4 linked regions of the Homo sapiens genome follow. The protein of the gene in region 4 purifies or fractionates together with the protein of the main gene of each other region. This does not show direct contact. Each region holds a gene or a part of one and is shown on either strand. Other genes may lie near its edges. The genes, in order: FGFR1OP2, STK24, RAP2A and MAP4K4.

Region 1 (8,511 bases), on a different chromosome or scaffold from region 4:
ACTAACCATATATATTACTTGGCTTAACAGTGAATAATACTTTACGTAGATGTTATAATGCCAACATGAAACTTTGAAATAACCAACAATTCTGACATATTAATATTGAGAACACAAGGGAAGGGGACAGGCATTAGACATATGAAGGTCAGAAGTTCAAGACCAGCCTGGCCAACATGGCTAAACCCTATTTCTACTAAAAAATACAAAAATTAGCCAGGCATGGTGGCACACACCTGTAGTCTCAGCTACTCGGGAGGCTTAGGCAGGTGAATCTATTGAACCTGGGAGAGGTTGCAGTGAGCCGAGATGGCGCAATGCACCCCAGTCTGGGTGACAGCAAGACTCCGTCTCAAAATAAATAAATAAGTAGATAAATAAACAGAGAACTCAATAAACAGGAATAAAAACATGTTATTTAGAAATCTGGAAGTAAATATGACAACTACTAAAAAATGGAAGTTTGCTTGGGGGTGCTGGGTGTAGGGAAAGCCTAGAATGGGGATAGCTGTTTTCATATGACTTGGCATTTTAACACTATATGCAAATCCTAGAGTGATTTAAAAAATTAGTCATTTTTTTAAAAAGTATTACCACATTTAGATAATTTACAAATGGCCACAGCTCAAAATCTAACCATACCTCCTGTAAATTTTGGTCTTCTTGAGTCCAAGAATTTAAAACATGTGCTCCAGAGTCACTCACAATAAAATTCACCTAATAGATTCCAAAGAAACAATTAGTATTCAACTCTAATTTCACTCAATCACCAACATATTTTCAAGTAATATGCAATTTGTAACACTGTTTCACTGATTCATTCATTCTTCTTTTTATAGTTACAGAATGTGTAGTATATGCCAGGTGCTATTGCTGGCACTGAGTACATGGGAATAGAGTGATGAATAAAAAAGTTCTGTCACTCACAATGTGGGGAAAGTCAGGGGAGGGGAGTCTACTAGGACAGAAGGCACTGCGGGAAGAATACAAACAAATAAATGAACAAGATAATTTCAGAGAGTGATAAACGCTATGAAAAATAAGTTAATTAGCTACTTTAGATTAGGTGGTTACAGAAGGACTCTCCATAGAAGTGGCAACTGAAGGCAATCCAAAACCAGCCACCGTAAAGTCAGGGATAGACAATCTGGGTACGGCAAATAACAAATGCAAAGGCATCTAAGCATATACCCTGGAAAGGGTGAAAGTCAGAGCAGGCAGTGGGAGAGGAGACAAACTCAGAGAAAGAGGCAGGAGCTGGATCATATAGGGCACCGAAAGCCAAAATAATGGATATGGTCTTTACGCTAAGTTTTAAAGTAAAATGCAAATTTGAAAATTTAAAATTACCTGCTATCAGGTAAGATAATGACAAAGAACATTTTGGAAAACTTATCAAATGATGATTCTGACCCATGTTCCTTTTTGGCTAGAGGGTTAGATTTCTTTCTTTACTCTGGACAACACGATCTAATCTATGATCTTTTTCCCTATATATCGATGAAATACCAGTTTTCCTTCCTCCCCCAAGAAGTTTGATAATTGGTCTTCTCTTCCAAGGCTTATCTGACAGGGATATATTTTACAAGTCACTTTACGTAGATTTATCTCTTTTAAAGCTTACATCGAGGAAGTAAGTGTTATACTTACACGGGAGGAAACTGAGGCTTGGAGAGATTAAGAAATATGATCAAAGTCACACAGCTAGTAGTTAACCACGCCAAGGTCTGAACCGAAGCCTGCGCTCCAAATCAGTTACATTCCCTCTCATTATATATTTTTATCACACACAGAATGCACACAAATTTTAAGAAGGGCTTATATTTTAATTTGGAATATATGTGAATGTATAATATCAGACTATGTTCACCTTTACTCTACTGCCCTACCTTCCTCAGTCTAAGAATTGGCTAGGTCCCAGCGCTTCGAGTAAGACAGAAAGCAAGTCTTCCACTTGTGGCTAAACAAATGACTTTCCCAAAATAAGACATTTAAGATACTGAAATCTAAGATTAAACTTTAATACCTGTAATTTCTGTCAATCATCCATTTCTCTTCTTACTGATAAACCATATCCACTTAGCATTCTTAAAAGTATTTCTTTCTAATATGGCCAAACAATACAGCAGTTTAGTATATATTTGCTAAAATTGCAAGCAGCTAGCCAGCTTAGGTTCAAATTCTGGCTCTGCCTCTACGTAACTATGTGACTCAGGACAAGTTTCTTCTCTTTACCTCAGTTTCCGGATCTGCAACAGGGAAGCAACAAACAAGACTGACAGTCAGCTGCTACATGCCAGCACAGTTTGACAGCAGCTCTCAATGGTCAGTCTGTGTTCTATACTGGTTGTTACATACTTTGAATATTGCTTCAATAACTACAGTTCCTACCTAACATGACTGTTATGAGAATTACGGAAATTAATAAATATGAAGCACTTTGAAATATGTCTGGCACATGTAAAGTGCTCAATAATTGTTAGCTGTTATTATTACTGGCCCCAATTAAATATCCATTATATATTAATCCCAAAGGGCAGCGTTATGTACCACATTTTTAAGTAATAAACACACAGTCATTATCTATAGCAAATTCATATAAAAATTCATTTATGCAGTTAAGTACATCCCCAAAATCATGATTTTGTTTGTACTTCACACTCACCAGCTTTTTGAAAGGAAATATATCATACATTATTCTACAATATTCCATGGAAGATTCTACTGAGCAAGTCCACAATGATTTAGATATGGGGGCCAAAGGAATGATTCCTTGGGTTCTATTCTTCACCAGCATATCAAACTCGACATGCTGCCTGCAAGATTCTGCCATATAAGGGCAGTGATCCACAACAAACACTGTTTTATGAGATTCAGAAAAAATCTTCATTTTGTTTTAACCTGTAAGGGGAAAAACATATTAGCCAAATATTTGTACATAACATCTTACATTTTTTCTAATTTTCTCAAGAAGATTGTCTTTCCCTCAAGAAGACTTGGTAGGGAACATGAATAATATGTTCAAAGAAATCTGTCCGACAAAGGACAGTTTAATGAGGTCATGACCAGAAAGCAAGGGTATCAATACACCATATTAGGCTGTCACTCTACCAGGCCCAGACAAAAATACCAGTGCATGCATTTTTGGTTTTGCTTTTAAAATGAACTTAAAATTGTCAGAGGGAAACATTTTGACATTTAATTGTATTTGATTCCCTTACATATACGAAACATAAGTGACAAAGACTCTTGAAATACAACTTTATGATCCTTGCTAATTGACATTAGTCACATATAAACCCCAAGCCAGCATTTTTGCACTTCCCTCCAAGAAAAACGTTTGAAGGGGGACTGGCGGGTAGGGGTGCGGAATTAACAGGAAAGAGGAGTGACAGCAAAAGAAAAGGCCAAAACAAAGATAAACATCTCCTAAGATAACCGCACATCAGGTCTTCGCCTTAGGATAAGGACCCCAACTTCACACTCTCCCCTTAGCTTTTGAAACATCACAGTAATTTACCAGGTAGAGCAGAAAAACTTAGTTGTTACCATCACACTGGTGTGTAGAAGGAAATTTAAAACTTTTAAAACTTTTTCTTATTAAAACAGAGCATACGGTACTCCCCTGCTTCGCTAACAAAATCTTATACTGAATAGACAATCCACATTCGAAAAGCACATGGCAAGCAAAGCCAAAGTGTTAAATCAAAACGAACTGATTTCTTACGATCCAGCTATTTTCACCTCTTGCTTTCAAGACGCATCTCCCCTTCATGCAAAACTCTCTTTGAGAAACCTTCTAGACCCACTTTGCTGGAGGGTGGGGGGTGGAAAATACAAGGTGAGTGGATAGGGAAGACCTCAGGATCGAGGTTCGCTTACTTTCGTGCCTGGTCCTGCAGTGAAAACGAACAGAGGCTATGGACCACAGCCTCTCTGGAAAAGGCTGCTGGCTGGGCGGGGAGAGTCAGCGCACAGTCGGGAGTGTCTGGTGCCACAGACAGGGGACTATGCTTTCCCCGATCATCTCCTAGCACACCGGTCCTTCCCAGGCTTCCTAAGAGCAGGAGCGCGCGTGCGCGTGCACACACACACACGCACTCGGGCTCGCGCGTGCGCACAGCGCTCTCCGATAGCCCGGCCAAGCCTCCCTTCCCCCTCGTAGGGCCAGGCGTCCCAGTCGCCGAACAGGAAGAGGGCGGGGCCAAGGAGGAAAAAAAAAGCCTCCACCCCTCGAGATTTTCCACCCGCTAATTTTCCCAGTCACCCATTGGGAAGCAGGATCTGGGCGACCTGAAAGCCTCCCCAACAGCGAAGTACCAACCACGGCCCCCTAAGCGTACGACCCACCCACCCGGTCTCCCCTTCTCTGTCTCTCCACCCAGGCCGGTTTCCCCTGGAAAAACTCGCGAGACTTTGCGAGAGGCCGAGCGAAAGCCTGGGAAGGGAGGAATAGGGAGGGACATAGAAGGGCCCCGCCCTGCCTTCTGGGGCAAAGCGGAGAGTGGTCGGTTCTGCCCCACAGTAACGCGAGGAAAGAAATCTCGCGAGGCTGGAGTTCTCCGGGAGCGCCGGTCGGAGGCGGTCGGCGGAGGTGTCTACCCCGCCGGTGATGGCGTTGAACGCCACTGGCTTCCCGGCCTTCCGTCCGCTGCCTCCGTCCGATTCTGCGTCTGCTTGCTGAGGAGGCGGATTAGGGGGGCGCGGAGTCTCTTCCCTTGAGTGCATAGGTCCCGGTTGGTAGAGGGTTTGAGTCCGCATCGCCACAGCTGAAGGCTGCGAGGGACTAAGAGCAGAGTAAGTGGACTAAATCCAGGGACGGGAGCAGGGGTGGGCGAGTCGGAGGCGTCCTTTGCCGGGGCAGTCCTTCGCCGGGGCCGGTGCCTTGCGCCTCTTGAACCACCGGCGCCCGGCCCTGTCCGCTTCCCGCCGCGGGCTCCCTGCTCCTGGGAGCCGGACTTCCTCTCCGCGCCCCCCGACTCCGAGCTCCTCTTAATGGAGATGCGGTGCGGAAAGTTCAATGAAAAGCCTTGGCTCTAACCCTGTGGACACACCTTCCGTATCTGCTTTCATCCTGCCTTACCCACCTGCGAGTTCACCACCGGACGGGGGACCCTTTCAGTCACCTGTTTGCAGCGTTTAATGAAGATAACTTGTTTCTTGAAACTGCTCTCCAAGGGGTATTACTCTTTTCTGGTTCTCTTCCTGCCTTTCTTCTCTATCCCATCTCTGATAATGGTTCCAGTATCTGTCCTGCTATCCGAACTAGAAAACCAGGAATCATCATTGGTTCTTCATTTCCACTTAACACTGCACTGTATTATTTTTTTTTTCGCCAGAATTAGTGCGGTTGCCCCCTCTGCCCCCCGCCCTCCACTGGTTTCCCTACTATAATCCTTCCATAGAGTTATTCTGAAATACATATTTATCTCTGTCCTTTCCTTAAACTTTTTAGTAACCGTATTGCTGACAGCATCAAATCCTAATTGTTAAGCACATCATCATTCAGGATCTTTTACAGTCTGCCCCAATCCATTTTACCTTTTAGTCCTGCTTTAATATCCTACCATACAAGACTATACTGGCTATTTCCCCAAACATGCCATGCGCTTTGACAGCTCTGTACTTTTGTACGTGCGGATGTCTAGGATGTTTACTGTTCCTCTATTTTACCACCTGTCAAAACCCAATTCATAAATCATTGTCTTCTCAGACTCCCCCAGGTGACATTGATACCGCTGTGCTCCCAACGCATTTGAAACTTTTCTTCTGCAGTATTTATTAGGTTGTATTATTTGTTTCTGTCTCTCCTGCCAATTTGAACCTGGGTCTGTCTGGAATCATGTCTTACTCATCTCTGAGAAAAAGTCCAGTACTTGGCACATAGCAAGCATTATTTATATATACATATGTATGTTTATTGAAATGGAATAGTTCTAAGGAATTCACCGTAAGAGTTCTTCATCCTTTAAAATCATAGAATTTTGGGCCAGAAGGAACTCTGTACATTAGCTTAAAGGTCCCGACCTATTTTGATTATGAGAAACCCTGTACTTCTAATACACATGCAATTGGACTTTTAGTAATTGTTGGTTGAAATTATGTATAATGACAGAAAACTACTATGCTTTTAAATGATTTTGTATTTTATTTTTACAGTATCTATTTATATTTGAGAAATGGAGCAGAAATGTTTTAGACTACAGACAGTGCTTGGAGTATGTGCATTCAGGCAACTCTTCTACTGACTCCTTAGCCTGTAGGTTAGAAATAACTGGTTTAGATTAGGTTAGTTCCTTCTTGAACTGTCACAACTCTTTGAACATATGTATGTGAAACTTATATTCAGCCACAATTCTAAGGGAACGTGTAATTTTAAAAAAATCCTCCAGTGTCATTACTTCCAAAATCTTTCTTCCAAGTTTAAAAATTAATTTTCTTCAGAAAGTGTCTTTATACAGTTCCAAACATGTATTCATTCCACTATTTTCAAGGACAGTGAAAATTTTCTTTGCTTTCACATACAGCGATGTGCCTTTATAAATGCTTATTTTTATATGTAATTTATATGCGTTCTTTCTTGCATTCATAAGATTATAAGTTTATATGAAAACCATAACTATACCTTTTGGTTTTTTTATTTCCATATGGGTCAGTTCATATTATGTACTAATTAATATTAGAGACACATACCTGAACATGAAAAAATTTAAACTAGATTGTTGACATTTAAAGACAGATCTGTGGTGTATCAGTAGCCACAATATTTCTGTGTAGATGTAGTGGTAGGAGTAGTGGATTTGCAGATAAGGGAAACAGAAGTGTCCAATCAGTAAACATTCATTGATCTTACAATTAATGTGATGCCTAATTAAAATGGTTGCTAGGCTTTTATTAATTACCTAGAAAATATTTGAAATTTTTTTCGTCTTTAATTTCTCTTACATTTCATTTATATTCCTATTTATTTTCTGAGGTTGGCTTGAAAATTTTGACTTGAATTTCCTTAAATTTTTCTTAACCAAAATCTAAAAGTAAACAGCTGGCAGTTGCTGTCTTGGGTGGGTGGTGGTTTCTCTTTTATCAGCAGCAGAATGTTCTAAGCCTTCTGCCAGGAGTCTGACTGCAAAAGTCTTTGGGTGGTAAAGTGGGCGAGAATGTGACTAATGCAGAAAAGAAAAAAAAATTTTTTAACTTGCTAAAAAAAAAAAGAGATTCACCTGTAATTTGGACCCGCCTATAGAAAATAATGTAAGTAAGTGTATTATGGCCAGTTAAGGTAGGCACTATAAAAATAGGCCGAAAAGTTTAGAATATTCCTTTTTTACTGTAGTCTGTTTTTTAAAATTTGAAACTTGTTAGAGAGTTTGGAAAACAGTCTTCTTCCTCCCACTCCACTTCCTGGCCAAAAAAGAGGGGAAGCACAATGGTCTTCAAAAAAGGTGATAAAGTAAATGCATATTATAAAATATTTTAAACTTTTGTGTGTGTGGTTTCACGTACAGGAAATGAACATGCAAATTCTTAGAAACTGTTGTCACTGTGTTTCTGAAATGCTAAAAAAAATTATGCTTTGAGCTACCTGCTGCTTATAATTCCTTTCCCTGAATAGGTAGGTTTTTATAGTTAACAAATTTTAAATGTAGTTGATTTTGATAGTAGTATTTCATTATGCAATCTGGAGAGGAGAGAGTGTTTTTCATAAAGTGGATATTAATTACAACTTTAAAAAGCCAATCAGTAAACATTCATTGATCTTGTAATTAACTGTGACACCTAATTAAAATGGTTGCTAGGCTGTTATGTCTGGAAAATATTTGAAATTTTTTTATTCTTTAAAATCTGTCTTCATATACATTCCCATTTCTTTTCTATGGCTGGCTTGAAAATTTTAAAAAATATCTTGGATGTTCCATGTGTTGGGTAGGGTCAGAGAACTTACTTTTTTTCGTTTTCCACCTGATGAGATTGAGATTATTTCTATACAGGTAAAAAGCAAACAGGACCCTGGGAATCCAGTGTGGCTTAGGAATAGGACACTAGACTGGGGATCAGAAATTCTATTTTTGGTACTAGTTTGGCTCTTTCCTTGCTTTGTGGTGCTGTCATTCAGCTTTGTTGGTTTGTTTGTTTGTTTGTGATGGAATCTTGCTCTGTCGCCCAGGCTGGAGTGCAATGGTGCGATCTCGGCTCACTGCATCCTCCACCTTCCGGGCTCAAGCAGTTCTCCTGCCTCAGCCTCCAGAGTAGCTGGGATTACAGGCGTGCGCCACCACACCCAGCTAGTTTTTGCATTTTTAGTACAGACAGGGTTTCACCATGTTGGTCAGGCTGGTCTCGATCTCCTGACCTCGTGATCCACCCGCCTTGGCCTCCCAAAGTGCTGGGATTACAGGCGTGAGCCACTCAGCTTTTTAGATTTGGAATTCCTGGGTCTATTTTCTCATTGGTAAAGTGGGAATAACACTTGTCCTCTTGCCCAAATGACAGTATAAGGTAGTTAGTTATTGC
Region 2 (8,112 bases), on a different chromosome or scaffold from region 4:
ATTGGAGACTAGTGTTCTGGTTTCTATGCAAGATAAAGTTTAAGGCCTACACCCAAGGAAATATGAAGCAATGCTTATTAGCAGAAGTGTGCAATGTGAAGTGCGCAGAAAGGTCCACAGGCCTTGGCAAGGGAGAAGGAAGCTCTCATTCCTGAAGCTGAGCCTGGAAGACCCAGCTAAAGGGGGGCTGACCAGACACACATTTGCAGAAAAGGAGGTGTGTTACGGGCTGACTTGTGTCCCTCCAAAATTCCTATGCTGAAGTCCTAATTCCTAGTACCTTAGAATGTGGCTGTATTTGGAGATAGGAACTTTAATAAGGTAACTAAGCAAAAATGAAGTAATTGGGATGAGCCTTAATCCAGTACGACTCCGGTATCTTTCTAAAAACAAAGAATTAGGGCCAGGCGTGGTGCCTCACACACTCTGGGAGGCCAAAGTGGGCAGATCACTTGAGGCCAGGAGTTCGAGACCAGCCTGGCCAACATGGTGAAACCCCGTCTCTACTAAAAATACAAAAATTAGCCGGGTGTGGTGGCGCTCGCCTGTAGTCCCAGCTACCAGGGAGGCTGAGGCAAGAAAAATGCTTGAACCTGGGAGACAGCGGTTGCAGGGAGCCGAGATCTCACCACTGCACTCCAACCTGGGCAACAGAGCGAGACTCCATCTCAAAATAAATAAATAAATAAATAAATAAATAAATAAATAAATAATAAAAACAGGAAATTAGGACACAGGAACACACAGTGAAGACCACGAGAACACAGAGGGAGAAGCTGGCCGCTACAAGCCCGAGAGAGGCCTCGGAAGAAACCAATCTTGCTGACACCTTCATCTTGGACTTCCAGCCTCCAGAATGGTGAGGAAATAAATTTCTGTCGTTTTGGCCATCCAGTTGGTGGTTCTTTGTTACGGCAGCCCTAGCAAACTAAGGCAGGGTGCAACTGAAAACCTACTTAGGGTGATATCCCTGCAAGAGCCTGCCCTCTGAGCTCTCCACGCACAGAATGAAACCTTATTGGTACCATTCCTCAATGTAGCTGGGATATTTTTCTGGGGCTTTGGCATACCTTTTCTTGCTATTGTGTCATCCAACAATGACTAGACATTCTTCTTTAAACTGATCTTGATAATTTGTCTTCACCTACTGAACATGTGTAGAAATTTGTCTAAGCCTTCTGTTAGTTACTTATCCAAGCTACTCCTATTTCTCCCTTTAAAGTTCACCATGTAAGTCCCTTTCTTTAATCTCTGAATTTAAATTGCTAATGCTCTACTTGTCTAGCTGTTCTTTATAAAGCAGCATTTGGGGGTGTTTATCTTTTCAACTTAGAAAGAAAAGTGAAGGGATTGATTGTGGAATTCTTGTTTTCTGTTCCTCTCTGAGCTCTGCTGAGAGTGCGTACAAACTAGCTTAGGGGCAGCAAATACATAGGGGCTTTATATTTGGAGGGGCTCCATATAGGGGTATGGAAATATTCTTTGTGGTCCAGAATATATTTCAGATCATAATTCATTGCCAGACTGATGTCCTTAAGTGAACACAAAAGACAAAGAGGACCAGGGAAGAAAAATAATTCAATGGATAAAGTAAATAACTCAATGGGTTAGTATCTCCATGGAGACCATAAAATGCATCATCTCTATGGAGACTCTCATAATCTCCTTCTGGACTTACGGTAGTGTATAACCTGTTGTAATCATACATTGGGGGTGGAGGGAAAGTGACAAGAGGAAGAGGGTGAGAGGATGATCCTTTTCTTTCCTTGGTGGAAATGATAGCTATTGCCACTCTAAGTTTAATCAATTATGGTATTGTATTCATCCAAAGTTAGGATTCTGGGAGACCAGGTCCCTAGGATGGGTTAAGAGGCACCTGAGGATCTAATGTTTATATGCCCAGTACTGAACTGGGTATCTGACATGTATTAATAGTTGGTATTCAAAAAAGGTGTGAATGAATGAACATAATAGGCAATTGCACCGGATCTGATCCCGGGCTCAGGCCCTGTGCATCATCTCTGTTGTGCAAAAACAAATAAGGTGGAGACCTACTTCTGCCATGGGGAATACTCGGTACTACCTGCATAGGGCCAAGGAGAACCAGTAACTCCCATGTTGCTTCCTTCCCTTCTTTCGATAAGAATGGTGCTCAACAGTATGAACATTGTCAAAGGATGAAACAATGGTCAGTGTGGAGAGAAGATAAACAGGGTTCGGGGCAACAGACCAGCTAATGGATGCAAGTCACTGTGTCCAGAGAAGTTACATCCTGCCGGAATCTCCCTGTTTTGAGCCTCACTAGCCTCAGGACACAAACTAGGATTCCGGTTATTTTTTTATACCCAGGGTACTATGGGCCTTTGTCCCCCATCTGCTGTGACTTATTTGCTGGCAATTAGCCCACTGCAAAGTGATTTCTGAGCATTTACCATGGTAATGTCTCAGATCAGCATCCAGACATTTCCATCCATTCATCTAGTTTCTTGCTCTTTATCTTGGTGCCAGGTTATTGCCCTGGCTCTGCTGACCCTAGAAGAATATTTTTACTGTCCCTTTTCTATGCTTAGACATGTTTAGATCCACAAATATTTACCATTGTGTTATAGTTGCCTCCAGTATTGAGTTCAGTCACATGCTGTTCAGGTTTGTGGTCCAGGTGCAATACGTCATACCATATAGCCTAGGTGTGTAGTAGGCTATGCCATCTAGGTTTCTGGAAGTACACTCTATGATGCTCACGTGACAAAATCAACTAAGAACACATTTCTCAGAATGTATACCCATTGTTAAGCAATACATGACTGTGTGTCTGTAGGCCATATATATTAATATATATATAGTCATTTGAGATCAGTCTATATACAGTGTTTTGTACCCTGTATTTTCTTTAATAATATATAATGAATACATTTTCCCCATTACTAGGTACTGAAAGACATAATTTTAAATGACTACATAGTACTCGTATGAAAATGCTATTATTTACTTAACCTCTGTGAGACTTTTTGGCTGTTCCGTTTCCCCAGGATTCTAAACATCACTGTGTCTTCTTACATGCATTCTTCCACACTTCTTGGTTGTTGCCTTAGGATATGTTACTTTAGGTAGAATTCCTGGGCTGCGCTGAAGAATAGAAACATTTTAAAGATTCACATTCTTGCTTGTTTTGCTGTTCGCCTCTTTAGGTACCATATTTTTTAGGTGTACAAAATTTATACACCTGATTTTAAGTTCCTGGGTATCAGGGTTCATACTTCTCTTAATTTTGTATTTCCTTGCAGTCCTACTTACGGGTGGCAGGGCTCCTCAAGGGATGGGTGTACCAATGACAACCATGAAAGTATTCTAAGGTATTCCCTAGGACTCCGAGAAAAAACATGCATCTTTCCAAAGGGAAAGAAGGGATTAGATGTTAGCATCCTACTCCATGTCAGATCCAGAGCACCCGGGGGAACTGAAGTTCGTGGATGGAATACAATGACACCTCAGAAAAGAAATACTCCTTTGGTGGAGGCCTTTAAACTTTTGGGGGCTCATTTTGTCTGCCTAACTCGCCCAGCCAGGGCGCAAAATGGCCACTTAGGAGCATGAGTGAGGTGCCAGCGTCCCTACAATCTAAGGAGCAGGGAGTCATCACTGGGGTGGCTGCCGCTCTACCTGTTTGCGACTGTAATAAAACACCTTCTGGAGGCCGAGGGACCCGCTTCATCCTGACTTTTCCCCTCAGTAGCTAGAGAGAAGGCGGCTGAAAAGAGGAGACAGAACTGGTGCTGAGTGGGCCTGGAGCTTCCGAGGCAAGGGAAAGAGGGAGAGGGCTGCAGTTCAAAGTCCAGACGCGCTTTCCTTCCATTCTCTTCCCTTCCTCCCTGCCCTCTGCGCCCCATTTTCCCCTTATCGTGGGTGGGGGCTTCTGATTTGCTGCGGATCCCAGAGATGGTGGGGTTCAGCCTCCGCACTGCTTAGCTAAGTTCCCAGCCCAGCAGTCCCAGCCGGGCTGTTTTCGGTAACCAAAGCACTAGGAATTAACCTCTCTCTCGGCCTCTTCCCTTTCGGTTTCCTTCTTGGGTTGGCTGGAAACTTCACCCAGACACCGAAGCAGCTCTGCCCGGCCTTTTGGCACAGGCCACCGGCCGAGGCCCCACGGGGCGCTCTCCTTCCCCAGGTGCCCCCGACTCCGATCCTGCCCTCAGGGGCTCGCCCGGGACGCGTTTTCCCAGAGGCCGCCGGGGCGGGGTGGGCTGGCTGGCGGGAAGAGGGGGCCGCGGCCCAGGCTCGCCCCGGCGCCGGCCCGGTGGGCACGCGGCCAGCCTCCGGCCCCGACTCGGTCCCTCCCGGCGCCCGCCCCAGCCGAGGCCCCCTCCCGGCCCCGCCGCCCGCCCGCGGGGGCGTGGGAGCGCCGCAGGAGCAGCTGGGACCCGGGCCGGGCCGACAGGCGGCGGCTGCGGCCTAGGGCTCCCGCGCGGCCACCGGCCTCTCCCCTCCCCCTCCCGGAAGCGCGGGGCGGGGTCCCCGGCCGGGCCGTGGGGGCGGGCGCGGGGGCCGGGCCGGGGCGGGACGCGCTCGGCGCTCGCGGGCTCGGCGGGCTGTGCGCGCCCACTCCGGCTCCAGCGGCCAGCGCGCGCGGGCCCAGGCCGCCCGGCTCCAGCCCAGCAGTAGCGGCAGCAGCGGCGGCGGCGGCAGTGCGCGCGAGGCCCTGCGCCCCCAGCAGCTCCTCCCTGGCGCCGTGCATGGAGACGCGGCCCGCCACCCGCCGCTGAGCCCCCGCCGCCCGGCCGGGACCCGCCAGGGCTGGGGTGGCCTCGGGCTCCGGCCGGCCCCGCCGCCCGAGGGCTGCGCGCGGCCCGCGGGCCTCGCCGCCCCGCGCGGATCGTCGCGGCCCGGCCGTCCCGTCCCAGGAAGTGGCCGTCCTGAGCGCCATGGCTCACTCCCCGGTGCAGTCGGGCCTGCCCGGCATGCAGGTAGGCGGGCGCGGGCCGCGGGGCCGGGATGCGCGACCGGGGCGGAAGCAGCAACTTGGCGGTATCCACACGGCGTCCCCCTACGCTCAGCCGGCCGGGGTCGCGCCGGAGCCTGGCTCCCCGCGCGCCCGGCTCGGCCGGGGGTCCGAGTCCGAGTCCCTGGGCGTCCCTGCCGGCTCCGGCGGCCGAGGTCTCCGGCGTGTGCGTGCAGGAGCCGTAGGAACCGCGGCCTGGGTCCGGATGTGGGGGTGCGGGCGCCTAGTCCTCCGCGCTCCCCTCGCCCCAACACTCTTCCGGAGCTGCAGGCCCTGGGTGGCCCTGTCCCCGGGAGAAGTGAGGTGGAGTGATGCCCTTGGAGGCCCCCGCCGGGTCCCGGGGCCCTGCGTGGTGGCCGGGTTGGCGGAGGGCCCCAGGACGCGTCCCCCAGGCTCGTCCCCCACCCCCGGGCAGGCGGGCGGGAGACCTGGGCAGGGCGGGGACGGGGAGCGCGCCTGGACTCGTCCGGGCCCGAGCGGAGTAGGCAGGGTGGAGTGGAGGAAGGTAACCGCGAGTTCCACTTGCAGTGGCTTTGCCCGGAGCCCCCGTGCACCTGCGGACCGGGGGAAAGTGCGAGTTGCAAACCTTCTGGAAGGAGGAATCCCTCGGACAGCCGCGCACCAGGGTCCCGGGCCCGGCCCCGGGACCCTGGACTTTCACTTTGAGACTTGGTTGCATTTACAGGAATTCTTCGCCCAGTAAACCTCTCTTTCGGTACTTGGTGACACCTTGGCCTACCAGTGACTTTTTGGGGAGTGGGAGAGGAGTTGAATTTCAAATTTACATGTATAAGTTAAAGGTTTTTTGTTGTTGTTGTTTTCGTTGTCGTTGCTTTTAGCCCTTTGAAAAACAAAGCTACCGTCCTTGGCTAACTCTTGTAAACTTTGTAGGCGCAGAAATGGTGGCAAAATGCTTAGGATGGAAATCTTAGGATGCAGTTAGGATATGTCATGAAAGTTTGCTCTGCCAGTTTAGCTGAGTGAACGTTAAGTGTTTGAAGAAAACCAAAAGCATCCAAGTAGATTACTGGTTGATTTACAGGTACCAACAGGCTCCTTCCCTGTGTCTTGAGGGCTGAGAAGCACAGAGCCCAGACCTGGGACTGCCTCTGGGGTCTGCTCGCCTCTTCCAGTGAGATCATCCCTCTCCCTTCTTTTTTTGAAACCGTAAAAAGAAAACTGGATTTCACTGTTCAGGTTTGAATTCTGGAAAAATAGGAACTCAAAGTTACCACTTTAATGGCAGCTAGAATTTTAGTCCAAGTGTGTGTGTGTGTATATGTGTGTGTGTGTGTGTGTGTGTATATATAAGCAGTATATATATGTGTGTATATATGTTTAAGCAGTAAATAAATATACATTTAAGCAGCAACAGTTAAGTTATTATCTTAAGAGTGACTGGGAAGATGCTTGAAGAATATTCTTTTGTCGACTCTCATTTAAGGAGCGTTGAATTTAGCATGCATTCAAAACCTAAACTTCTGCTGACTGCTGGGTAACAATCAGATGTGGTTTCTTGGTATTTTCTAAAGCCGCTTTGGTATGAATTTAGAGGTGTGTAGGTCAGAGTGAACTGGGTGAAAAAAGTAATTTCTTACTAGTCGAGCAAGAAAGGACTCTTGTAATGATTTAAAAAAAAAGTTTTATCAATATTTCCTTTAGGTTGATATTTATACCGTGTTCATCAGGTTGGAATCTAGCACAAATGCCTCACTTACTAGGTTAATTGGCCTTTGTGGATAGCGAATCAGTTTGAAAAGGTACTAAAGCCCCTTTGGCTGGTGCCGTGAAGTCAGTATCAGATGGTTACCAGGTGATATCTAGTATCTCACCTTTTCATTTTTATCCTCACTTTTTTTTTTGAGTGGGTCAGAATTCTTAAACCTTGGGAAAAGAAGATACATTTCCTTAATAACTTTGCCTCTCAACTATTATGTATCTGTTAGGTTGTGTTACATGGGAACTGTTTTTATTTTGTTTTCTCAGTATGAAAGATCTTAAGTGTTTCTCAGTGGAAAAGATGATCAGATTTTCAGCTGTTACAGTTTTACAGTTTTAGAGGTAGGTAAGTTGGCTTCTGCCAGTCATTCCTGTACCTAAGTACATCTACAGACTGTATGGTAACAGTGTATCATTTGGGGAAGAACATTCTTTTCTCCTCCCCCACCCCACAAAAGAAAAACAACAGCACATTTATTTTCTACTTCAAATTAGCAGTTGCTACTGCCCTGGGAGGCTTCCCTAAGAGTTGTTGCTGAAGATTCAATTAAAAACACACCTGCTTTCGACTGTTGTCTGCTAAATGGGAGGAGAGAAGTCCGTATCTCTTCTATGGCTTGCTCTGATAGGCCTCATAGCCCTCCCTTTTTCTTGTCTCCTGACCAGGGCTTATAAGGAGTTGGCTTAGAAAGACAGCAGAGTCTGTAATCTCAGCAGTTTGAGAGGCCGAAGTGGGCGGATCATGAGGTCAGGAGATCGAGACCATCCTGGCTAACATGGTGAAACCCTGTTTCTACTAAAAATCCAAAAAATTAGCTGGGCGTGGTGGCACACGCCTGTAATCCCAGCTACTCGGGAGGCTGAGGCAGGAGAATCACTTGAACCCGGGAGGCGGAGGTTGCGTTGAGCTGAGATTGTGCCGTTGCACCCCAGCCTGGGCGACAGAGGCAGACTCCGTCTCAAAAAAAAAAATAAAATAAAAAAATAAAGCAGAGTGAATTCAGGTGGCCTAGGCAAGGATGCTTGAAAAATAACAACCATGTTAGTATAAACACCATTTTTCAATGTTTTGCAAATCATTTTTATGCCTCTTGATTCTTACCGGTACCGTTTGAGATGTAGATGATATTATACCATTTTGTAGATGTGGAGACCAAGGAAGACTTAACTGACCAAGGTGAGATCATATATTATGTGGCAAATTTGTGATTGGAAACTACTACTCCTCCTACTCCCACTCATCATGCAGTGTTACTGTTTTATGGTTACTTTTGCAAACATTAAAGTTTATCTCATTGCTAGTTAGATTGGCTAAAGAAATTAGAAATAGGAGGCTGATTTTTTAATTTATTCAATCAGCAACCCTTATTGAACTTTCATGTGCCAGGTCCTAGGGG
Region 3 (8,556 bases), on a different chromosome or scaffold from region 4:
TTAGTTATATATTTTGTAATATTTTATTATTTATATAATTACTATATACCCTTTCTAATTCCTGATTTTTCCTTATTAGTTTTAAGCATAACCATTATTTTATAATATAAACATGTAATTGGTTGCTTAATATCTGTCTCTCCTGCTAGAATACAAGCTCTTTTGGCTAATTGCTTATTGTTTTATCCCCAGAGCCTAAAAAATATACACAGTAATTACTCAATTAATATTATAGTATCTTTGAACTATCGTTCAGATATTAGTGAAATGAAAGTGCTCACAAATGCTTGCTGATTTTTTAAAGCCCGATTTTGGCTGGAATCCCTCATACTTTTTGTTAACAGGTGGGATGTATTTTGCTGTAAGATGCAGAAAACCTTACCAACACACACTTAAATTGAAAGACACCAGCTGTTTACTTAGCCATAAGTCCAAATGTGGGCAGTTCTAATGTTGGTTTGACTGTCCAATGTTGTCATGCAGGACCTAGGTTCTTCCCATCCTCCTCCCTGGCCATCCGAAGTTGCTGGCTTTCTACAGTATTGCACCATAATGTCATAATGCATCATAGCCCCCAAATGGAGGCCACATTCTCATATTTCAATGTGTAAAGCAGGAAGCAAAGAGAGCGACATCAGAAAACGGGGATATTTCCTCACTCTTGTCAATATCCTAGAAATCCCTCCAGCCCTAGCAGCCTTCTCCCCATTCCAATGACAAGAACTGAGTCACGTGCCTACTTTTGGACTAACCGTGGGCAGAGGGAAAGCAATGCTATTAAAGTCCAATCCTGATTCATCCCAGCTTCTTTGGCAAAAATAAAGGGAAACTGCTGGGTACGCAAGCAACACTGTGCCTGCTCTTCTGCTTTGTTAAATGAACCACACTGAAGCTCTGTTTTCCGCAGAATCCTCTAGCTCTTAAGATTCTTCAGGCTTTTTCTTTTTTCTGCCTACATTTTAATCATTACGTCTTTTCTTTCAGATTTTTTTTCTGATTAAAATGGCCTTTTGAAACATCTACTCTCTCCACCCATACGTTTCTTTTATTGAGTTGTTTCCATACTCTTAATTTCTGCATTCTAATTCCTTTTCTTTTCAAAAGCACTGAGACATATCACATTTTTTAAAGGAAGAACAAAGTTTATTTTGCCCCTTCCTTTCCACTCCACATATATACTGCAGATTCTCAACTGTATTAGGAGCCTCACAGGTCAAGAAACCATCGTCTGCTCTCCTTATACTTGCCAGCAGCGTTTCACAGGTGCTAAATGTACTTGACATGCCCTTCCCCTTTATGTTTAATCAGAGGCATGCAGGCTTTAATAAGAAGCATTAGGAATCAGGGTTTTACAGTCGAAAAGTACCCCTCGCATTACAAACATCCTCTACTAATTTGTTTCTATTAAATTATCTGCATATTTGCTTCTTGCTGGTGTCAGGAAGTCCCAGAATACAGTACCTTTCCCACTTCATACCACCTTTTCCAACACCTTTTACAGAAAGAAAGGATGGACTTGGGTTTCCACGGTAACACAAGTGCGATAATTGAAGGTATCTGGCTATAGGTGAGATAACTCCCTTTCAGATTTAGTGGAGAGAGGAGAAATGAAGATTTTCTTTCTTTTTATTCTCCTGGCAATGCACTTTGGAAACTAAAGGGATCCTGCAGTGTCAGTTACTGCGTTAAGTTTTCACTATCTTACAGATTTACAGCTCTTGGGAATAATTCAAATTTCTTTTATATCATTTTTATTTTTTATTTCCCACAAACAAATGAAGATATAAGTTATTTCTATAATCATCTCAAAATAGAGTTTATGCTGGCATCGGAATGAACATGACTAAGGGGTTAGAAAATAGACATCCATCTCCCACCCAAGTCCTCTAAATTCTCTACACGTCCTGACATCCTTTTTATAGCAGCTAATCTTTCACCCAACATTTCACCTACAACCACAAATCAGGTAAGTACCATCATTTAAGCCAGAATAGGTGAGAAAATATGCTCCGACCTGTCATGTTTCTTTTGCCTCTTGGTGGTTAAAAATCAACCTTTATGGTACTGAGCATGAAATCTGAGGCCTGTCAATATAAGGCCTGTAAATAAATGAACTGTAACCACCCCAAGGGCTGCAGTCTCTATACCCCTTCTTATCAAAAACGTCAGCATTGATGAGAGGTCAGGGGAAATAGCCTGAGAAATGTCACAAAGCTGTCCTACTCTGTATTATGCTAAATGGAGTGACTACGGAGCCCACTCACTATTTTTGTGACAGCTTCAATCCAGAGCTTCTCAACATCTAGGGACCTAGGAGTCATGAAAACAGTTACTTAAGGCAACCTTCTGGACCCCACAATCCCAATACAAATTTCTCAAAAACATTAATCACTGGAACTTCATTCCTTGCAAAGTAAATGGACTTAGAGCTCCTTTGTAATGCAAGGTACTAGATGAGTTGTCATGATCTAGAGAGAAAGCTTCACGCTTCCTGGCTCTATTTAACAACCCTAAGAACTTCTTATCACCAAGATGCACAGTTAGAATCTTAAGACAGTCTGTCTTTCCTTGGAAAAGAAGTATAGCTTCTACTAACCCAAAGTAACCATGAATAAGCATACCAATTTTACACAAAATATGAGACTTCTGGAAAGCTAGGTGAACACCATACTTACCTACATCCTCTTGAAACATCCCTGCCAAAGTAGCTCAGATATGAAGCATCCATGTAAGCTCTTTCAATTTTAATTCACTATTTCATGTTAACTAGCCTAGGATGAAATAGTAGATCCTCTTCGGTTCCAGTTCCCTTAAAACAGTCCTGATTCTTAGTCCTTTTTATTAATATAATACCTTCACTGCTGATTCTGGTGGCTCAGATAGTACCATTCATATTTTAATGATATGTAATCAAGAAATGCTGAGTTATATTTTACTACATACACATTTTTAAATTCAGAGGACATTTGTCCTTGATAATTTTAAATGAAAACTTGGTGTGTGTTCATTACAGCAAGGTAATGCAAATATAAGTTATCCATTCTAATATAACGAAGCTATAGGGAAATAAGAAACTACTAAATTTGAGTAGTCTTTGTAGTAGTTTGACTATCGACAGAAAAGATGGTGAAAGAATACCTGGCTTTTAACTCAGACCAAAATCCCCTCTGCATGATGACCTTGTGGGAAAGAGGAACGGGGAGAGGTATGCCAGGCTCTAACAACAGAACTACAGAAACGTGTTATTCGCAGGAAATGTGCGACAGTAACGAACAGGTGAGACTAGTTTGAGAAGGACATAGTTTAAAGAAAGTAAACTGAATAACCAGTTACTGCAAAAAATAATGCAGGAAAGCTTGGGGATGTATCGTCTCCTAAATTTGACGTTATGGGTGGGAGAGGATGTGTAACTAAGATGCAATGCTAGCGACAGAACGCTAAGTTTTAAAACTCAATAGTGAAAGAAAAAAAATAATGTTTTGGGAGGAACGCCTGGAAGACCCATGCAACTGCTGCACGATGTTTCCTTAAGGACCGGAACATTTCTCACCCTGAAGACAAAAGTCCCTGTGTTCTCGATTCAGCCCACATCCCTCAGCACCATTTCCATGCCCATCATTTAGGCAGAATGCCACGGAGGCGACGTGAAAAGTGGAATTCATCATTCTGGCTTGCAACGCATCTTGTTCTTTTGCCAGAACAGGGCACAGCAACTGGCTCCTCAATCTCTGCCCCTCCCAAACCCCAGCAGCCGGTCCCTGTCTCCATCCCGCCGGCCTCGGTGGCAAGGGGCTCGCGAGCTCTGGTTGGCTTGGCCGAAGCTTCCGTCACTCGCCAGCTCACCTACGATTGGTTGGCAGAGCGTGCGCGAAGAGCCCCGCCTGGCAAGGCACTGGGAGGTGGGCTTGCGGATCCTACGACTAGCGTTTTTCTCGATTGGTTGAAGGAGTAAAGGCACGTGGTATGGGGGCGCTCTCTTATTGGTCGTGAATGGTACCTTGTGGTACAGAGACGTGATGTGGTTGGCTAGAATGAATCCCAGCTTCCCACTAGATGCCCCTAGCTGGCTGTTGCTATGAGGAGTCCAGGGCCTTCCGGCTGCCGTTCGGGATTCCGCTCTCCAGGTTTTCAACTCACCCGTGGCTGACAGGGCGTGGGAAGAGCTCGACTTCAGTTCGGCACCGAAAGGGGCGGGTCTAGAAGAAATGTGGGCGGGTCCAGAGGGTTGGTGGGCGGGACCCCGGCGACGTCAGCGGGCTTGGACCCGACTTCCGTGGTGTGTGGCCGCCTCTGACTCGCCCCTCTGGCGCGCTGCTAGAGGGGGGCGTCACCCTCCCATCAATGTCCTAACGCTCCAAAGCTTCATTTTGTTGCGTTTACACAACTTCAGTCAGAAGCCTGTAGGTGCCCCCCCCTTAAAGCTTCACATGCTAATACAAGATAAAACCAAAGCTCTAGGAGTGCTGACAGACTGGGTGGCATCGGACAAAGGCCCTCGCGGCCCCTCTTGGGCCTTGGGCATCTCTCCTTCACTCCCCGCCTCAGGATAAAGCTTGGAGGTAGCTCTAGCCCCTCTACCATCTCATCCCTTCCGAATTCTTAATGTCTCGGGAGTCTCAGGTTGACGCTGCTCCTGGCTTGGGCGGGAACTGCGCATGCTCGGTACACAGGCCCTGGGGTCTGACTGGGCGCGCTGGGTTCGGCGCTGCTCGGCGGTCGCGGTGCTTGTTTATCTCCGCGCGGGCAGAAGCTTCCGAGCCCCGCAAAGCCTCTCGGGAGCGCTCGCGGCCCGTCGCCTAGGGGGCGGGGGCGGGGCTGCGCCGCGGGCTCCGCCCCGGCCGCCGGACCCCGCCCCTGGCCGCGCTGCGGCTGGGGCTCGGGCGCGCGCTCGAGCGCTGGGGGTAGCGGCGGCGGCGGCGGCGGCGGCGGGCGGGGATCTGGGCGTGGAGGCGCGAGGGGCGGGGCGGGCGGCACTGCGGGCCCGCGGCTCGGGCGGCACCAGCGGCTCCCGGTCTCTCTCTCTGCTCGCCCTCAGTCCCACCCGGTGCCTACGGGGCCGCATCGCCGCCCGGCTCGGCCCGGCCCATGCCCAGGGCCGCTGCTCCCTCAGTTGCCGCCGCCGCCGCCGGCGCCCAGGGGGCCGCCGCGGCTGTGAGGTGGGGGCGGCAGCGGGAGGCGGCGGGGCGGGCCGCCGGGGCCGGGGCTGGGGGCGCAGCGCGGCCGGCGTAGGTCTATGTCGCGGGCGGCGGCGGCGGCGGCGGCCGCGGAGGGACGATGCGCGAGTACAAAGTGGTGGTGCTGGGCTCGGGCGGGGTAGGCAAATCCGCCCTGACCGTGCAGTTCGTGACCGGCACCTTCATCGAGAAATACGACCCCACCATCGAGGACTTCTACCGCAAGGAGATCGAGGTGGATTCGTCGCCGTCGGTGCTGGAGATCCTGGACACGGCGGGCACCGAGCAGTTCGCGTCCATGCGGGACCTGTACATCAAGAACGGCCAGGGCTTCATCCTCGTCTACAGCCTCGTCAACCAGCAGAGCTTCCAGGACATCAAGCCCATGCGGGACCAGATCATCCGCGTGAAGCGGTGAGCGAGGGCACACGGGGGCTTGGCGGCTGCACCCCGGAGTCACCGTCCCGGGGCTGGAACTCCCCGCGCGGGGCTCCGGGGAAGGGGCTTTCTGGGGGGTGGCTCCAAGCTGGAGGCTTTACTATTGTCATTCTGCTCCTCCTCCTCAATCTCAAATTTGAGTGCTTTGTTTCACAACTAAAATTTGGCATCGTGTTAGCCCACAGAACAGCTCTTTGTCTCTTGGACGTTGTTAGCATTGCTTGTTACAGAGCCCCCAAGGAAACAAAGTTTAAAACTTGCAGGGGGGAAAGGGGTGGATAGATTTGTCTTGGGAAGAGAGGAACTGTGCAGGTATAGTCGAGACATTTGCAGACTGAACAACAACAATCTGCCTTGGCAATGTTTGACAGTAAAAATCGCTCACACACCTATACAGTAAAGTCAAGTCCAGAGGAAGGAGACCTTTCTCATCTCGTTAAAGGTTTATGGTTCCAAGGCGTTTTACAAAAATTAAGTCTCTAATTTAGTGCAAAACTTTAAAGACAGATTATTAAATTATTTGAAGACATCATAAGCTAAATGGGGTTTCGAGAATATTAACAGAGGAGTACAAATAAGCCATTCACAGGAAAAGAATGCAGCTTAACTGTTTGTTTTTGTTTTTTTGTTTTTAATATAGCCGCCTTAACCCCTTCCAAAAAAAAAAAAAAAAAAAAAACACCACCACACCACCACCACCAGTTCCTGGAAACAAAACAGAAGCTTCTTCAAAAGTGTGACACAAGTATTAGCTAATTTAAAGTTAATGTTAATAAGCCTTTATATATATATATAAATTCTTTTCTAAAGTATACATTTTGGAAATATGGCTGATAAATGATTTAAAATGTTTGTTTTCTCTTAAATTCACTGAATATATTTTTCCGTGTAATTTTAAGCATTAGAAATGTGATAATATCTTAGTTCAAAGTTTTGGCAAATTTTTCTAATTATCATTTAATTACACATTACTGTTTCATCTAGTTCTTGTTAGTTAATGCCTGCTGATAATTTTGGTGTCCTTTTTTTCCTGCCTTATTCTACCTAGAGCCTAAATCTGAAGACCTTTACTGAAAGATGGTTGTAAGTGCACCGTAGACACAGTCACATTGTAAGTCAGTTTGAGTCCACTCATTTTGAAAGAGCAAGGACCAAGTTATGTGTACCCAGGGGATGATCAAAAATTCATTACGAGTAGTGAGTTTTTAATGCAACCTATGAGATCAAAGAGAAGGCTCTCTCTCTATTGCTCCACCCCCCCTTAACTGAGTATGCACTTTAATCGCTGAACTAAAATCGTGCATGTTATTCATCCTTGTGTTAAATTCCAAACTAGAATAAAGCAGATATTTTCGTGGTCTCTGCTGCTAAGATTTGTAAATTTGATAGCTTTGTACTTCTCCAGTATCATTTTCCTAAAGTTAAATGTTTATAGTTAAGAGATGAACAATTCTGGTGTTAAACTTAGTATGAGGATGGCATTTAAGGGGCTACATTTAAGTTACTTAAATTCTTATTACCCCCTCCCCCAACCACTCAATTAAAAAGAAACAAACCAAACCAACTGCAGGGTAGTCTGATACATTGCCACATGTCAATGTTAGGCCAAATGCATACATCAAAAAATAATCTAAGTAAATGCCCCAACAGCCTCACCCTTCACATTTAGATATATATGCTTAAAGATATGAAGATGCACATATACACTGATAAAGCCACATACCCATGGCTAACTTCTTGACACAAGCCTAGGGAACAAATATGGCAAAATATTATTGGATAATATGGTCCACATAATTTTGTAGTTTCTTGTAATTTAGTGCAGATTACTTTTCTCAGTTATAATAATAGGTTAGTCTAAACTCAGCATATTGGAGCAATTTGTTTATTTTCACTATGACCCAGAGGAAAAACATAGAGTAAAATTCTGCATGCCCAGTATCATTTTACTCACTAGTCTCAGTTCTTGATATAAAAAGATCATTGATCAGCTGAAGTAGAGTTCATAAATTCTCTTCACCAGAATTCAACCGTTGTATACATAAGAACCTCTTGGACCCTCACTTGTGTGTCTTTGTAATATGGTAGTAGTAAGGTATTTTACACCTCATCCTAACCCCAGCGTCTGGCTTCCCATCATTGATGGAGAGGACATGTGAATGCAGGTGGCCTCTTCTTTACCAGTCTTTCAGTATTTGATATCTACTGTCAAATTCAGTATTCAGCTTTAGGTCTAGGTCAGCACTTTTCAATAGAGATATAACGTGAGCCACATATGTAATTTTAACATTCCTAGTAGCTGATTTTTTAAAAATAACATAAATATATGGAATTAATTTTAATGTATTTTATTTAACCCACCATATTTAAAATAGAATCATTTTGACATGTCAGTATTCAAAAATTATTAATAAGGTACTTTACTTCTTTATACTGTGTCTTCAAAGTTTGGTATGTGTTTGACCTACCACATCTCAATTCAAACAAGTCACATTTCAAGTGCTCAGTAGCCGTATGTGGCCACAGGCTGCCATATTGGACAACAGAGGTCTAAGGTGTATATGATTTGGGGAAATGCTTGCTTATTTCTCTAAGCTTCAGTTTCCTTATCTGTGAAATAGAGATTAGCATGCACCTTCCAGAGTCCTTGTTAGAATTAAATGAGATAATGTATTTTAACATTCCCAAAACAATACCAGTACACAGAAATTGCTCAAAAAATTCTAGCTGTCATTCTTACTTTAATAACTTTGTCATTTATCTTCCTTAAATGTTACCCTTGATATAAATGTAATTTTAGAAGAAATAAATTTGTAATTGCATTTTGGAATTCATTACTTAGTATATTCAAGATGAGACTAAAAAGCAATGAGGTTAAAATAATCCTTGGAAGAATTGTGTTGGTATTCTCTTGAAATTATTTCCCCTTATGAAGGATCTGATG
Region 4 (7,000 bases):
CTCAGGGTCGCAGTGTCTCTTCATGTGTCACAGACTTGTCCATGAATGTGGCAGGTTGTGAACAGTCGGTGAAGTGAGATGTCAGTGGCATCCTAGTGCTCACTTCACTCCTTTCATTTTAATGTAGGTTTGAAGTTTTTTTTTTTTCAGTATGAGGTAAAATTCTAGATCAACAAATGTATATACACAGATCCTTGAGCTTTGGTGTAAAGACACATGTCTATATGACAAAGTCTTCTTTAAAGGGGTCAGTCCAGAAAGCAAGCCTCTAGTTAAATAAGCCTGATTTAAAGAGTTTTGGGAGGGAAGTTATGTTTCTACAACTTTTATTAATAAAATATTAAACCTAAAATGTTGATTTTAGTAAAATATTAATATTTATTACTAAAATTTCATAAATATCCTATAACTAGTAAATAAAAACATTAAATATTAAACCTTAGCGCTTTGAAGTTTTTAATAATAAAAGTTGAAGTAAAATAAAAATGTGTCTCTCAAAACCTTTTTTATGAGTCTAAAGAAGACTTTGTCATGTAGGGAGATCTCCTTACAACAAAGTCCAAGAGTCTGTGTATATACATTTGTTGATCTAGAATTTTACCTCATATTAAAAAACAACAGTAATACTATCAGCTTAACATAAGCAGATCTTTTTTTTATTGTCATGGGATTTGAACTGTATATGACATCTTTGACTTTTTTTTGGTGTCTTCTATTTTTTTTTTTTAATCTCTCTCTTGACTTTATTTGGTCTTTTCTATCAAAAGCCATAGGAGCTCACTTTCTCATGAAACTGGGTAACTATAAAAGTCTTACAAAACTGACATTGTGGCAATTTATGGTTAAAGAACTTCTCATCTTCTCCTGTCCCTGCTCCTGCTTGCCTTACTCTCTCTTTTCTGTCCTTTGCTTTAGGATCTGACCGCACTGGCCAAAGAGCTTCGAGCAGTGGAAGATGTACGGCCACCTCACAAAGTAACGGACTACTCCTCATCCAGTGAGGAGTCGGGGACGACGGATGAGGAGGACGACGATGTGGAGCAGGAAGGGGCTGACGAGTCCACCTCAGGACCAGAGGACACCAGAGCAGCGTCAGTCCCCGGTCTCTTTTAGAGCGGATGAGAGTATTCTCTCAGAGCCTGCTTTCCACTGGGACCTAGTTGTTCCTAGACTATTCCGTGACCCCATGAGCACTTACTATGTAGTTCTCGTGGATTCAGCAGCAGGTCGCCTTGTGTTTCCCCTTCTCTTCGTTGGTGTGTGCATATGTCAGTGCTTCCCCCAGCACCCCAGCGTGTACTTTATTTTTTCCTTTTGATTTGAGGATATATGATCCAGGGGAAATTTCAGTTTGGTATAACTACTTTAATTAGCCATAATTATTCATTCTAAGTTTTTGCTCAGAAACAAATGGCACTGGAAAGAAATTCTTTGTTAAAGGGAGAAAGCTAAGCAGTTGCTTTTTTGGAGGAGGCTTTATATCGGTAGCCTCATCTCATGTTTTGATTTTGAGAAGGCGAAAAGCCTAAACAGGATCTCCTTGACTCCAGAGATTAAGGCCTTTCACGTCTGGATTTTTTCTCCATAGGTCATCTCTGAATTTGAGCAATGGTGAAACGGAATCTGTGAAAACCATGATTGTCCATGATGATGTAGAAAGTGAGCCGGCCATGACCCCATCCAAGGAGGGCACTCTAATCGTCCGCCAGGTACCCGTGTCTTCTCTGTTGTCAGAGGCTGAGCTTCTCCTGTGGTCATTAACCCACTTGCTCATTCACTCACTCATGCTGTTTCTCCATCATCATCTGTTTTCATGTTAACAAGTCCCAGAGGGTCAAGTGTCGAGTGTCGGGGGCTAGGGAGGCAGGTGTGTACTGCATGCCCAGAAGGTAGCGAGTAGTCTCCACCCCACATCGCTGCTCCTCTGCATGTCTGCGGCAGCCCTCATTCAAGCACCGCGCTGAGTCTCACAGTCTATGTCTGAGCGGGAGAGAAGCCACAGGGAGTCCTTAAACAGGCTCACAGAGTGAGGAAGCAGGTCTGGAGTCTGGCAGAGCAGCCACCATGGCTCTGCAGAGCACGCTGGGCTCTGAGTGTCTGCAGTGCCACAGTGGGAGCGGGTGAGGCAGGCAGGACGAGCCTCATCACAGGCCCAGAGACTCGGAGAGCAGAAGGGTTCGGGAGGTTTCTCTTCTATGTTCCAAAATGTTAGTTTTCTCACTTGTTGAATAATTAAATGTGTGCCACCCAGATATGCTCAGTTTGGATCACTAAGCTTTATAACTGTCTGTTCATTTCTTAGCTTAGACTTAATTAAAGTGATACGCTTCTCATTTAAATAGAACAGGGCACCTATTTAGTATTTTGGACTTTGCCCTAAGTGTGTTTCATGCTATGGCAATGCATTCGGATGGAAAGTAGGAAGAATGTGGAAAAGACCAGGATTCAGAGAATCCACAGGTACTTTCTGGAGCTTTGCAAAGAAAGATTTAAAAAGAAAAAAAAAAGGATACTGGTTTTGGTAACAGAAGCTAGCGCAACAGATAAACCAGATTAAACACTCACTGCTCGAGCCGTGCAGCCACCAGATTAGGTACTTTGAATTCTGTTGGCACAAGTTAGGCATTTGGTGAGGAAGTGTGAGCAGTTCAGGCTAATTTCTTTGGTTTTTCCTTGGTAATTTAGCAGAGTTTATAAGTCACACAGCACCTTAAAGCAGTTATCAATAGGGCCATAGGCAATTTTAGCAGCGCTTGAGCGAGACAAGTGTGCCTGTTTTTTCTACAGAGTACAGTTGACCAAAAGCGTGCCAGCCATCATGAGAGCAATGGCTTTGCCGGTCGCATTCACCTCTTGCCAGATCTCTTACAGCAAAGCCATTCCTCCTCCACTTCCTCCACCTCCTCCTCCCCATCCTCCAGCCAGCCGACACCCACCATGTCCCCACAGACACCCCAGGACAAGCTCACTGCTAATGAGGTATGTCTCGCACCACAGCTGGCTGCTTTCCTGGGGTTAGACCAGCACTGCCTAGGAGTTAGTTTGCAAAGGAGACCTTTCCAACACCCTCACCCCTTCCCTTCCCACCCTGCTTTCTCTGTCACCTACCCTTCTCCCCAACCCCAAGTAACATGTTTCAGATCTGCATATAAACCCCTTAACCCTAGATCAGCTCCCCCAAACTTGCCAGTTCACTGTTTACTGTTCTGTAGATAAGTATAGTTGCATGGCTTTATCTAGTTTATTTTTTAAAAATCTAAATAAAATGATTGCTCTGTCCTCAGACCGGTATTATGTATTTGGCATGAAATTCTTATAGTCATTTGTGGAATCTGCCTTTTTCATTCTTTTTATCCAATAAATAAAATATAGGAAGATTCGGTTCAGCAGGCTTGGCCTTATCTGGACAAACTTATTATCCTGTACAGGAATCTCTTTCAAACAGAACTGATTTTTTTTTTTTTTCTTGTTTGGGGGGTGGGTTGTTGGCTGATTACTCTTACTTGTTTTCACCAACCCTGTTAAGGAGTTTGTTCTTTGACATTTACAATCACTCAGAGGTTTAGAAGCCAAATTATTTTTGGGAAACCTAGAAAAAATTAGGATGTTAAGCAAGAAGGACAAAGGTTTGAGCTTGTTTTTAATTTAAAATTTTGTGTGGGAAATCTGTGTGCTCCTTTGAAGGCTTGGTTGTGGTGCTCGGTCTGGGTGTTAGCTCAGTCTGGGTGATTCTTTGCTCTTTGAACAGGGTTATACTCCAGGTGTAGTGACATAGCCCACTTGAGCACCCGTATTGAATTAAACAAGTGATTTGATTCCACAGAAGATTTGGTTTAAGTGTCTTTATCTACCAGTTGAGGGAGGTTAGAAAGAATCAGAAAAATCCTCTCCTCCGGAGGAGCAGTGGCAAGTCAACTGCTTCCTAGACAGGCTTGGCATCGGCTAGACTGGCTCCTGACTCATGGGACAGGGAGGGAAGCTGCCAGGGGACAGATGTTCAGGTGGGAAGCTTAGGGGAGGGCATGGGCTCTAGGACATGGTGACCCTCAGGTGTCCATGGAGGGGGTCCAATGGTACAGGACAAAAGCACTTGATCAGACATGTTCCTTTTTTCTCCTGAGGTATATATCCCACCTACACTCACATTCTTCCTTATATTTATATTTTAAACTTTGCTCCATTTCGCTCTAATGTGCAGTATTTTACTATAACCCTTAACTCACTAAACCGGCAAATTTATTTTTCTGTTTGTTTTGTTTTTAATTGTCATTACATTTCCACTTAACAATTTGTTTCACTTCCTTTGTGTTTTTTTGTCTTAAGTTACATTATTAACCAAAACACTAGTGCTCCTAAAAGATCAAAAAGATACGCCTTCTTTTGTCATTTGCACCTTTCACTAATGAGTCCTCATTTGGTATGGGTTTAATGGTGATGCACCTAAAACAACAGTAGCCAAAGCTTCTGTAGCTTTCTGGCAAGAGGCTCAATTTAAAATAACTACAATTATTAACAATTGCCAATATTCCAGCATAGATTATTTGGACTCTTGGGTAGGAGAATAAATTCAGAAGTTGGTGAATTGAGATCAAGACATTTCAGACCTCCTTTAGGAGTTTCATTATAAGTATTTACTTAATTTTTTTTTAAAGCTAGGCACATGAAGTCTAGATTTCATTGGTAGCTTGCAGCACTGCTTTGTAAGTGAGCAATGTCTCTGGTAGAGATACGGCTCCTGCAGTGGTTCCAGGTAAAGCTGCCCTGAGGGGTGCTATGCCACGTGGAAGCTCCCCGCAGAGCATTTTTTGGGGGAATGATGCAAGGCAAATAGAGCAAAGTATTGGGAAATAGTGCAATATAGAAGTGAATTGAAATGTGTATTTTTAATGTTCATTTTTAAAATGCCAGTTGTATTAATAACATTGAAATTTACATTGCAGACTCAGTCCGCTAGTAGCACACTCCAGAAACACAAATCTTCCTCCTCCTTTACACCTTTTATAGACCCCAGATTACTACAGATTTCTCCATCTAGCGGAACAACAGTGACATCTGTGGGTAAGTACAGTAGCAACAAGAAAGCAGCTGACAAATGGGACTTTATCTTTGAGTTGCTCTTTTGGGTGGCTTAGGTGTAGCTGGTTGTTCACAGGCACAGACCTCGGGTACAGAAACTTCCCATCCCAGTTGTATGCCTTATTTGCAATGAGATGCAGAGTCCATTTCCTTTTTCCATATACATTGCTTACAGATTTCTTCTCTTTGACAAAGTGTTGGTTATACCACATGAATATTTACTTGAAGTATACTGGGGAAGGGAGGCAGGCATAGTGTGTGTGTGTACAGAAAATAATTTCAAATATATTGTGTTTCAGTGGGATTTTCCTGTGATGGGATGAGACCAGAAGCCATAAGGCAAGATCCTACCCGGAAAGGCTCAGTGGTCAATGTGAATCCTACCAACACTAGGCCACAGAGTGACACCCCGGAGATTCGTAAATACAAGAAGAGGTTTAACTCTGAGATTCTGTGTGCTGCCTTATGGGGTAGGTGTCTAGCCACTACTCCAACACTTTCATTTTTGTTCTGAGTGGTGGCTGGTCTTCTAGAGAAGTACTGCATTGAATAGTTTGTGGATAGACAGGATGGAAGACTTCTATGATGTCCATCTCCTGTTATATGCAGAGTGGTATATTAGCAGACTGGTGTGGCACATGTATATGATTGCACTCATTTTAACTGTCAAATATTGGCATGATTAATCTCCATTTTATTTTTATTAAACAAATTTTTGTAGTAGTTTTGTTACGTGGATATATTGTATAGTGGTGAAGTCTGGGTTTTTAGTGTAACCATCAGCCCATTATACTCAATAGTGTACATTGTACCCCTGAACCCTGAGGTTGACTGTTCTCACTATAAAATTCAATCATATCTAGCAGTGGAAATGTTGGAGAAGTATATTTATAAAAACTTACTGCAACATGCAACCCAGTGTTTTTCATTTTTCATGCTTGTAATTTCCAAGTACTTTACAGTGACTATTCTTTTGACTATTAGCATTCAGTACTTTATAAAATTATACAACTGTACAATTATACAACTTGGAAATATATCATGGAGAAGTAGAAGATAGAGTGTAAGTGCCACAATACCTGCAGCTTTTGTGTTTTGAAAAGAGTCTTCAGCTTTATCTTGTTACTCCCTCATTCTTTCTCACTGTAAAATCTTGAGGTTGATGTTTATATGTTAGTTTTTAGAAACACACATAATAGGATTTCTTCACAAGGCCCATATTTTGTGTAGTTATTACCAGATTCTTGACATAGGAGTTTAAAAAAATCTACTTGATACTGAAGATTGACCAGGAAAATATCAAAATATTGTGTAAAATAGAACCTTTGAAATGGTATCTGTCTGGCAGCAGTTCTATCAATAAATATCTGTCTTTTCTACCAATAATTTCTAAGCTGTTTTAGATCAACTTGCCTAGATATATGCAGGGAAACCTAAGCATAATATTCAAATAAGTTCCACCTTGACAAGGATATAGTCAGGGCAGAATGGCCAACCTCAAGAATAAAATTATATGAAAATGAATCACATATTACATATTTAAATATTTTTCTTATACTGATAATCTTTTTAGTTGTACAGCATTTTTTTTTTTTTAATCTCTAAGGGTTAAGTCACTATGCCCACAAGCATTGCTTGGGTAGATACTGTCCTCCAAATGTTGGGATAATCCCAACTCAATCAACTCTATAAGGACCAGGCATGAACAGAGAGAGGGCTGTAGGAGCGTTGTTCTCTCAATGCCGTCACAATTATTTATTTCAGATTATCTGGAAATAGGGTGTGGGTGGGTGTGGGCATACATGTATGTGCCATGATATTCTTCCGCCTCACTCCCTCTACACAAATACTTTATTCCTTGTCTTGGTGAGTTTATGACTGAGGAAATCAGTACACACAGATATGTGCCCAATTCCCTAGGAAT

What was found.
Region 1: the proteins of MAP4K4 (region 4) and FGFR1OP2 purify together in Homo sapiens (affinity purification with mass spectrometry; 2 studies listed by BioGRID). This does not show direct contact.
Region 2: the proteins of MAP4K4 (region 4) and STK24 purify together in Homo sapiens (affinity purification with mass spectrometry; 2 studies listed by BioGRID and IntAct, with this or other methods). This does not show direct contact.
Region 3: the proteins of MAP4K4 (region 4) and RAP2A purify together in Homo sapiens (affinity purification with mass spectrometry; 2 studies listed by BioGRID and IntAct, with this or other methods). This does not show direct contact.

Annotation. Positions count from the first base shown.
Region 1 is NC_000012.12:26,933,914-26,942,424, forward strand, and holds the start of FGFR1OP2 (FGFR1 oncogene partner 2), read left to right. Parts: upstream 1-4,556; 5' UTR 4,557-4,797; intron 4,798-8,511. Other genes in the region: INTS13 (integrator complex subunit 13), read right to left, coding at 643-717, 2,666-2,890. UniProt on the Homo sapiens protein: May be involved in wound healing pathway.
Region 2 is NC_000013.11:98,573,594-98,581,705, reverse strand, and holds the start of STK24 (serine/threonine-protein kinase 24 isoform b precursor), read left to right. Parts: upstream 1-4,598; 5' UTR 4,599-4,919; coding exon 4,920-4,961; intron 4,962-8,112. UniProt on the Homo sapiens protein: Serine/threonine-protein kinase that acts on both serine and threonine residues and promotes apoptosis in response to stress stimuli and caspase activation.
Region 3 is NC_000013.11:97,429,197-97,437,752, forward strand, and holds the start of RAP2A (ras-related protein Rap-2a), read left to right. Parts: upstream 1-4,972; 5' UTR 4,973-5,274; coding exon 5,275-5,588; intron 5,589-8,556. UniProt on the Homo sapiens protein: Small GTP-binding protein which cycles between a GDP-bound inactive and a GTP-bound active form. In its active form interacts with and regulates several effectors including MAP4K4, MINK1 and TNIK.
Region 4 is NC_000002.12:101,868,707-101,875,706, forward strand, and holds part of MAP4K4 (mitogen-activated protein kinase kinase kinase kinase 4), read left to right. Parts: intron 1-915; coding exon 916-1,091; intron 1,092-1,588; coding exon 1,589-1,709; intron 1,710-2,787; coding exon 2,788-2,979; intron 2,980-4,940; coding exon 4,941-5,058; intron 5,059-5,375; coding exon 5,376-5,546; intron 5,547-7,000.